Linked DNA regions of Homo sapiens: regions 2 and 3 are each reported to be linked to region 1. Evidence: microRNA targets listed by miRTarBase, many of them from high-throughput screens and not tested one by one. Region 1 holds a microRNA gene; each other region holds the end of a gene's coding sequence.

What was found. The annotated mature microRNA hsa-miR-448 reads UUGCAUAUGUAGGAUGUCCCAU and lies in region 1 at 1,828-1,849, shown strand. An mRNA with a match to its seed (bases 2 to 7 or 8) in the 3' UTR can be bound and repressed. Matches are read on the target gene's strand: a 7mer-m8 pairs with bases 2 to 8, a 7mer-A1 pairs with bases 2 to 7 and ends in A, and an 8mer does both.
Region 2: miRTarBase lists RAET1L as a target of hsa-miR-448. Seed matches in the 3' UTR shown: 7mer-A1 at 1,180-1,186.
Region 3: the mRNA of THSD7A is a reported target of hsa-miR-448. Seed matches in the 3' UTR shown: 7mer-m8 at 154-160.

Annotation. Positions count from the first base shown.
Region 1 is chrX:114,821,697-114,824,956 of GRCh38, forward strand. MIR448 (microRNA 448) reads left to right here and starts at 1,758; the gene lies at 1,758-1,868. The region is part of intron 4 of HTR2C (5-hydroxytryptamine receptor 2C); the gene reads left to right.
Region 2 is chr6:150,017,474-150,020,733 of GRCh38, forward strand. It overlaps RAET1L (retinoic acid early transcript 1L), which reads right to left. Exons shown (of 5, transcript NM_130900.3): 4 at 2,635-2,766; 5 at 861-1,382. The coding sequence ends at 2,657. Among named protein-coding and RNA genes, the nearest start is that of RAET1L, 6.4 kb to the right of the region's middle.
Region 3 is chr7:11,372,941-11,376,191 of GRCh38, forward strand. THSD7A (thrombospondin type 1 domain containing 7A) reads right to left here. Exons shown (of 28, transcript NM_015204.3): 28 at 1-2,938. The coding sequence ends at 2,854. Among named protein-coding and RNA genes, the nearest start is that of PHF14, 400 kb to the left of the region's middle.

The DNA.
Region 1 (3,260 bases):
TTAAGAAGATTACTATAAAAAGCAGTATTCAAAAATATATTTTACAGTTTACTTTAGTTTTTAGTGAACATTAGAATGATAGCATGGCCATGTTGTTTATCACTGAAGCACCTAGGAGAGTTAGCAAATGTTAATCCTGCTAGTGTCATCAAGACTAAACAAATTATAAAGACTAAATATCCTTTTTTTTTTTTTTTTTTGAGATGGAGTCTCACTCTGTCTCTGAGGCTGGAGTGCAGTGGCACGATTTTGGCTTACTCCTACCTCAGCCTCCCAAGTAGCTGGGCTTACAGGCACGCAACATCACCCCTAGATAATTTTTGTATTTTTAGTAGAGATGGGGTTTCGCCATGTTGGCCAGGCTGGTCTCGAACTCCTGACCTCAGGTGATCCACCCACTTTGGCCTCCTAAAGTGCTGGGATTATAGGCGTGAGCCAACATGCCTGGCAAGATTAAATATACTTTTAAAAAATTATATTTTTTTCTATTGACTTAGAAATCACTCTACATTAATGACATAGTCAAAGAGATTTTACTTTTGTTCTCTTGTAAATAAAATACCAGATTAAAGGTATGCTTAATGTGATAAAGTAAAGCCAAAATCCAAACCAGAAAATCTAGAGTCATAAAGTTAAAGCCACAATTATATCTTATTCTCTTACCTACTCATTTCTTTTTCCCCACTACTGAGAGGATAGAGTCACATAGTACAAATCAGCAGAAGTCCTCATTATTATATTCTTGCTTAGGCAAGAATTCATGATTGCTTCTTTGTCCTTATCCCTTTTCCACCACTCAAGATCCATACAATAGAAGAAATAGAGAATCATTTAATAAAGTTGTCTTCCATTCAACTCTGAAGAAAATATCAACAGAGAAATGGAAGTCTTTTCCATGCACTCATAGGTAAAGTTTTGAGATCAGCTTGAAAGGAGGTAGCTCAATTGGAAATTACATAAAAAATTCCAGGAAAGATGGGTTGTGAGACTATCTCAGAAGAGAAAATCTAGGGTTTGTTTGTTTGTTTGTTTGAAGATATTGTAGATTGTATTGAACCTCTCAGGTGTCAGGTCCTGATGAAATTGTAGGCTCACAAAATTTTGCAGATAGGAAAGTTCTTGGTGCTGAGAGACTTGAGATGAGCAAGTACATAATGCAGAATTTGCTAAGCTAAATGAACAGGGCTGATTGAATTTGTCCTTAGCTAAGTTTCTTTATTTTGTAATGTGGTGGTCACATTGCAGAGCCGCAGAGCCTAGGATCTCATGATGCTTCTAGGCCTGTGTTTTTGGCAACTAAATTGTGATACATCTGGGATAGCTTTGGTAAAAAGTGTGTGCAGCCCATCTGGGGTCTTCCAGCCATAGAATTCCTCTACTGTCATGTAAGAAGTCTGTTTATATGATTTAGAAGCAGGTAATACAGGTTGACTAAATTGGAAGTGGAGCTGGGCAGTGTTTGTAACCCAGAAAATATCTTGGTACCTATAAGTGTCAGGAGATTTTTCTCCTTTTATTTAATTGGTGGGAAATGATATTTTTGAGATAAGGGGTTTAAGTTCAAGTAAGAGATGAGTTATTGGTTGACAAGCTTTTGGATCATTTAGGCTACTTGTAATCACAACCAGTTCATCAGGAAAAGACCACCAGGCCAGAAGAGGCTTTCATGACAGCATTTACACAGAGAAGCATCAATCAATGTCAAGCCTTTCAGCAGAAACTGGAACTTCATGGTGCAGCAGTTCATCTTCGCATGGGCCGGGAGGTTGAACATCCTGCATAGTGCTGCCAGGAAATCCCTATTTCATATAAGAGGGGGCTGGCTGGTTGCATATGTAGGATGTCCCATCTCCCAGCCCACTTCGTCATGACAGACACCAGAAACACCACTCTGCTTCACTGAAGAACAATAAAATCTGCGTGTCATGGAAACACAGATGCTAGAGCTGCATCACTAGAAAGGCATTCTGACAAATGTATTTAGAGGAGGGTAGAGTACTGACTGCTATGACCTTGGCTCATAAGAGGCAGTGGGTATGTGAGTGGATCTTTAAGCTCAGGGCCAGTAGATCTGCATTAAACCATATTAGCAACAACACTGGCCACACAGATAATGCCTCCAGAATTGTGCCACCTACTCTCAGAGCTACACCGAATTAGGGAGATTCAATAGTTGGGCATATTTATTTAGGCTAGCCAGAGCCAAATACCTAGAGGTAGAGAGAATCTAATTCTTAATTATAGAAAAAAACAAAGATTATATCCTGAAAAGCAGCCTAGAATTTCAAGTCTGAGGGTCAAGGTAAGATAGTAAATTAAAAAATATGTCTCAAAGTCAGAAGAAGGATATTTGGGAGGAGTATTCCAGAGAAGAACTAACAATTCTAAATTGAGCAGAAACAGTCTATTACACTTTGAGGCAAGAATCAAGTTACAAGGAAGTAGGTGTGATTGCAAAGGGAGAAAGTTAGCGGCATGTCCCTACAAATATTTCAGAGATATAATTTCTGTCAGCTGCAGTATCCAATCATATCCAGGGAATTCTGTCAAAAGCAAGGTGATAGGAAATATCGAGAGCAGGGCCCAGCTCTTAAAAACATAGGGCAGGATTAAAAGTAATGCAAAATCCAGCCAATCCTAGCGGCCCTTCTACTTCTGGATTGGTACAGGAAGGATATAATCTCAGAATAGAAATAAGCCATTTAAATGGAATATATTTAGCTTTATAAATAATTGGCTGTTATACATAATTTTCCATTTTCACTTTAGACTGCTGAAATTTCACTATGGATCTTTATATGAAAATGACTAATCTGTAGGAGATGCTACTGGCAGAGAATCAATTATGTCAACAGCACAAACTTGAGTTGTATCCTGGGATGCTATCGAGTTTTCCACTGACTTTAAATTAGGGTCAAGTTAAACAGGCCATCTCCAAAGACTTTGGGGTTCTAAAAAATGTTGATTTGCTATGCATTCGAATCTGGGATGAGTTTCTAGTCAACCATCCTGGCTTTGGCATTCTTCACAGTGGATGGTAAGTGGGCCAATCTTAGGCTGAAAAACAGGCTGATTTAGGGTTTGGGATTTAGAGCATTTATATCTCTTTATTTTCCTCAGCAGCACAGACTCTCCATTGGAATTAGGGGCTTAGTGAATAGTTCAAAAAACGTATGGTTTCATATACAAGGACCCCAAAGTTCCATGCAAATGTATGAGCATACTGTTATGTATAATACCCATGTAATTTCTGTAGAGTC
Region 2 (3,260 bases), not on the chromosome of region 1:
TTCTATAGGCTGTTTACTGTGTTGCTAATTTCTTTTACTGTGGAGAAGCGCTTTAGTTTAATGAGGTCACATTTGTCAATTTTTGTTTTTGGTTGCAAATGCTTTTGGTGTCTTCATCATGATATCTTTGTCAGGCTGTATGTCCAAAGTGGCATTTCCTAGGTTATCTTCCAGGATTTTTATAGTTTTAGGACTTACATTTAAATCTTTAATTCATGTCGAGTTATTTTACATATATGGTGAAAGGTAGAGGTTCAGTTTCGTTCTCCTACACATGGCTAGCCAGTTATCCCAGCACCATTTATTGAATTAGGACTCTTTCCTCATTGCTTTTTTTGTTGATTTTGTTGAAAGTTAAAAGGTGTGAAGGTTTCTTTCTGAGCTGTCTATTCTGTTCCACTGATCTAAGTGTCTATTTTGGTACCAGTACCATTCTGTTTTGATCACTGTAGCCTTATATTATAGTTTGAAGTCAGGCTATGTGGTGTCTCTGGCTTTGTTCTTTTTGCTTATGATTGTTTTGGCTATTTGGGCTCTTTTTTAACTCCAAAGAACTTTTAGATTAGATTTGTCTAATTTTGTGGAAAATGACATTGGTATTGATAGAGATAGTGTTGCATCTATAAATTGCTTTTGGAAGTATGGCCATTTTAGCTATATTGATTCTCCAACCCATGAGCATGAAATATTTTTCCATGTATTTGTTTTGTCTCTGATTTTTTTCAGCCATGTTTTGTAGATTCTCTTTTTCCACACAAAGTCTGGCAGAATCACTCATTTATTACTCCATATCATGGAGGAAAAATGAAATAACATTAATTCTCTACTGAGTAATACAACAAAATTCTAAACTCAGTAGGTTTTTGGGAAATATAACTCTTTATTTAAATATCAGTACACAGCAATAAATTACTAAAGGAAACAATCATTAATATAAATTTTTTTCTTATTAAATAATTAAACAATTCTCTTTCAGGACATGGAAAGAATCCCTGGAGGTCTGAAGTCTAACATGATTGTTTTACTGACAATCATGTCAGTAATGAAAGAAAGAAATCATCATTCAAAGAAGTACTTGATTTTCCAAACAAAAAGAGAAGAAAGAAAATGTTGACATATCTTGTTTAGTCAGCCAGAACTTTAAGTGCAGGAATTCCATCAGGTAGCACCAAGAGAAAATTGCATAATATGTTAGGAATAATCACTGGTTAAATTGTTGGCAAAAGGAATCAAGGCAGTGAATGAGCTATTGGGTCCATGGTGTCATCATCATCTGCTGGAGGCTGCTGGACATACACCGTAGGTGGTGGGCAGCTGGCCAGACAGAAGGGCGAGGTTGATCAAGACCGTGCTCACAGGGGCTTTTTGGTATCATCTTTAACCTTCAGAAAGGACCCAAATGTTGGTTTAAGAGGCAGAGAACCCGGATCACTTTTCCACGGTAATCTTTCCCTAGTCACTCTATGTCTCAGAGCCCCCTGCACTAAGGGACCTATTTTTCCCTTGAGCCCCAACCCTGGCGACTGCAGCTTGGACCTACCTCTTTCCTCCTTTGTCACATCACAGAGTCAGCCCAGGCCCTGCACCTGACCAGGGGATGGAGTGGAGGGGCCCACAGGTCTGAAGCTGGTAGTGATGGGTCCGCTCCCTCACTCAAGGCCCTCTTTATCATCTGATGACAGGGTCTAAAACATGGCAAGGGGTGGGACAGACTTCCAAAGAGAGGGCTCTGTATTCCTGTGCCCTTGGCCTTTGGTGGGCCTGCAGGCAAACATCCTTCTTTCCCCTTCTTCTTGAGCATCACCTCACACTGGGAGCAGCACCCATAGTTCTGAAGGTGACTGTCCCTGTTCCACCTTTTCCATTCCTTATCCAGCCCAGTGGTGCCCGTGGAACCCCAGCAGCAGCTCAGATGCTCCTTCCTCTGAGTCCACTCTGCTCCTGGCAGGGCTATGACTGGGCTCAGGATCTGGGGTGTGCAGGAGTGTGATGGCAGGGGAGCTGCCTCAGGGCCCAGACTCAAACCCCACGGGTACATGGGACTGACTTTTTAAAAATCCTTCTCTTGAGCAGCCTCTACTCTTCACCTTCCACCTACTTTCTGTGGGAAGGCAGCCCTGCACTCCCTCCTTTTCAATTAGGTGTACCAAGGCTCTCCCAGCCCCCTCCTCCTGGGATTACACCCAGATCTCTCTTAGCCTCAGAGATGGAATCCCCCTTCCCCTGTCACACCTCATGTAAAGCTACCATGATGCACCTAACCCAATTAAGAGGACTGCCCATGTCTGAATTCCTGCTGCCTGCAGGCCACACACCCTTCCTGAATAGGAACCTGCTCTGAATCAGGCCTGAACTTGCTAAACCTTCTCAAGCTCAACAGACCCTGAGCCTTGGTATGGGCCCCTCCCTTTCCCTCTGGACTCTGAAGGTGAGAAACCATCAGAACTCAGGGCTGAGCTGCCCAGGTCATTGCCAACATTGCCAACAGGCAACACAAGGTCTCATTCACCTGTCTCATGTTAGGATGAGAAGGTCCCAGCCACGGGGAGGGGCGGGACTCCGGGAATTCTCTTTCCCCATCCTGCCTCCTCACCCACCTGCTCCTTGCTCCACTTCCAATTCTGCCCACAGTACCTGTCACTCTAAAGGACTCTCCTCAGATGCCAGGGAGGATGAAGCAGGGGAGGATGATGAGGAGGCAGCAAAGGATGAGGGTGGTGGCTGTGGCCCTGAGTTGGGTTGTGCCTGAGGACATGGCGAGTGGTGCTGAAATGGAAACACAAAAGTGACAACCCTTGTCCAGGCCCCAAATCTGAGGAGACACCTCCTCAGTTCCTGCCACCCTAGGTCATCCTGGAAGGCAAAAGTTTTGTCCCCTCCCCCCTGGTGTGGGGCAGCCAGTATGACAGGTCCTGGCTTAGGAAGGGAGACGGGGTGTGTCTTGTCCTCAGGGAGCTCACACAGCTGCTGAGGGAAGCAAGGTGACAACACACCCCACCCTCCTGCTGTGGGGGAAGAGGAGGTGATGCCCCAGAGTTGGGGAGGGGAGGATCTCTGGCTGGTGTTGGAAGTGGTTTTGATGGATTTCCAGAACCAGACCAGGGAAAGGAAAGGAAAAGTGATTCTCAAAAGAGGAAACACTAAGGAAAAAGTTCTGAAAACAGTGACACCTGCAGTTTCAAGGCTGGTGAGAAATCCACAGTGTGGGGAGCAGAAGCAAGTGCAGTGAGGAATAGGAGTCAGGAGGGAGAAGGAAGAGG
Region 3 (3,251 bases), not on the chromosome of region 1:
TTCCACCTTTCTAACGAGGTTATCCAGTATTTATTTATCCTAACAAACAGTGACCTTCCAATATGTTCTCTAATATTAGGTCATGTTGAACCTAATTTCCTCTCTCTCATATATATGGGTGTGTGTGTGTGTGTGTGTATATATATATATGCATGCATATATGCTGTAAAATCTAATTAATTTATGAATAAAATGTATTTTTCATAACATTCTATAATTTTGATTTGCTAATTTAATTCTTATAGGTAGGATGATACTAATCTTTTCTGAATTAATGACATTTTACAATACCTTAAATATAGCTTTAGTAGGTATTCTATCCCACATTTCAAAATTAATAGGTGTTGCACACATTTCATAAGAGGGTTAGCTGAATTTTTCAAGTAACCACAATAGAGTCTTTCTTAACTATTTTGGACAAATGGAGTTTATTTTATTCAAAGAGATCAACTTTAGGATTATCTGGAAGACCCCTGATTATATATATTGACAATCACAGTTTTAAAGTAACAATATTATTTTTTCTTCCTCTTTAATAAAACAGATAAAATGGACTTTGTTTTTATGGTTTTCTTTGTTTAAATCCTTGCTTTAAAGTAAAATTTTCATCTTCCTGACTACCTGTTCTCTTTGAAATGATTTACATTTCCTAATATAGTGAATATTGAATGAGGAATTAGCGCTTACTGCATTTAGTTCTTATTGAAATACATACAAATATTTTCATTTTGGGGACAATGACATCCTAACCTGATGTCTTTTGTAATCTTTGCAAATACTCTAATGAACAGCAGGGGGAGTTCATACTCCAGTATGAAGGTAAAAATACCTTCTAATCCAAAACACTTTTACAGGAACACAGCTGTTTAAGATAAAATAGCATGTTAGTTATATTATTTTTCAAATATCCTGAAAAGCTAGTGTCCTCTCTCACAAAGGTTGTTGCAATAATGTTGCCTGAAAATGGTATTGCTTTTTAATGGCACCTTTTGAGTTTTCTTTTCATTTGCAAGAAGTCTGCTGAGTTAGTTAAATATTGTTCCACTGTGCCATTCCCAGGGCTACATCTGTAGAAAATACAGCTACTTCTGATACAGTGGGAAATGTAATGACTGTAAATTCTCACCTTTGAAAAATGAATGAAAACGAAAGATGACACCATGGAGAGCTAGCATTAAAAAACATCCAGACCAGGGGTCAGCAAAATATGACCTGCAAAGGTGGCCTACTGGCTGTTTTTGTAAGGGAAGTTATATAGGAAAACAGTTATGTTCATTCTTTTATTTACTAAGATTGCATTAGCAGAATGGCAAAGTTGAGAAGTTGCAACATAGACCTTGTGGAAAATATTTTCTATATAGTCCTTTACAGAAAAAGTTTGCCACTCTTGCTCTAGATATGCAATGAAGTCTTGGATAAGATATTTATTCTTCTCTTTTAAAATTTTAGTTTTGAAATCATACATTGAAGAGAGAGATTGCTTCAAATTTTGCCAGTGAGAAAGGCAAAAGACTATGGATTTTGAAATAACTGCCTGCAAGACAGACATTCAATCTGAAACTGGGAAATCAGAGAGAAAGAAAAATCAACATATAATTTTGATTTCCTTTAGTTACAAAGGTCATTGATACATTATTTATTTTCTCCATCTGCTCAAAATTAAAAAGACATCCAGTTCCTTTTTCTTTTTTTTTCTTAACAAAGATAACAAATATAAAAATCTAGTCATAAACAGCCTTCAAAGAACAATTACAAACCAACTAGAGGAATCCACCTTTTAGAGGGTTAAGGGGTTAGGGACTTCAACACTTAAATTACCGCCATGTTGTCAATTTCACAATGGCTGCAGTGATGAGGAAGTGTGTGTACAGCAGGTGTAATAGCTGATTTCATCTTGCTGCCATCCAAACTGAACTTTACTCTCTTCAGGATACAAGAACTTGCAAATGTCTTCATGCCACTCTTGGCACAGATGTCTTCATCCCACATGAAAAGAGGCAGTTTCTATGGCAATACTGGTTAAGCGCCTATCGTGCTGCACTAATATAGTGCAAAAATGTGCCTTCCATATAGCAAAAAAGATGCAGGCAACCAGTTTGAAAATCAGGGAAAGTAGAAACGTATTGTATTAACACAAGTAAATTAGTTTTCCAGACAATTACCACTATAAAATACTGAACTTGAGGACTCGTTCTTCTAAGACACTAGTACTTGTCCAGCATTCTTACTTTGGAGAGAGACAAGAAGTCTTAAAAAAGAGGCTTTGTCTCTGAAATGCAGGTCAATAAAATCTACCATCGACCACCAAGATGCTGAATTTATTCAGTGGATTTTCTGCTTAGCTTAGAGTTTATTTGTTATGCATTGTTAAAATTGCTTATTAGCAAGTACATAATCTGACATAATGTGTGTCATTCAACTGAGTACACATGTTAATTTGACCATAGTATTGTGGAGATCTTGGTAGAAACTCTTCATGCTAGGAAGTTTTATGGATTAACACTGCAGACGGTCTTGTATCAGGCATCCTAACTGGCCAATTCCACCATTATTTTTTAGAGATGAAAGTGGTTTTTCAGTCGGTAGATTTCAGAAAAGATGACATAAAACTTTCAGAATGCAGCATGTATTCAGCTAAATCTCCTATAATTCTCACGGTTGATGGTCTGTATATAAGTGGTACTGTCTTAAATATCTCCAGTGGCAGTATGATTTTCACTCTTGTCTTTATGATGCCATTTTTAAAAATTAAAATATATTTTAATCCACACAGTTTGGATACATTTGTTGTGGCCTCTGGACATCTATGAAGTCAGAAAGCCGAAACTGGTTGTTGCCAGGAAAAGTTATATGTTACATGTCGGCATCTCCATCATAGGCTAAGGTTAAAGGTTTCAGTCGGTTGTTTTGCCTTCTTTGGGGTTTCTTTGGCTTTTTGCTGTAAAAAAATTCGGAATTAGGAGAAAGAAAATCAGTTTCTAATTGTAAATTTGATTGCTTTAAGCGAAAAAAAAGTAAAAGCAAATTGATAAACTGAAATTGCCTCGTTGCCTGCGTTGCCTAAAGTCTATCTACCTTAGAATTTGATTTTCTGATCTTGAATTTCAGTTTTATGCTTTGAATAAACTCTAAGTAAACTTCAAGTGTTTCACTACCCTACAAAAGATAAATTATCCAAGTGGGATTCTTTTAGTATTAACAACAGAAATAAAATCATAGTAGGGTCATTTTCATTTGGCCAGAAACCTTTA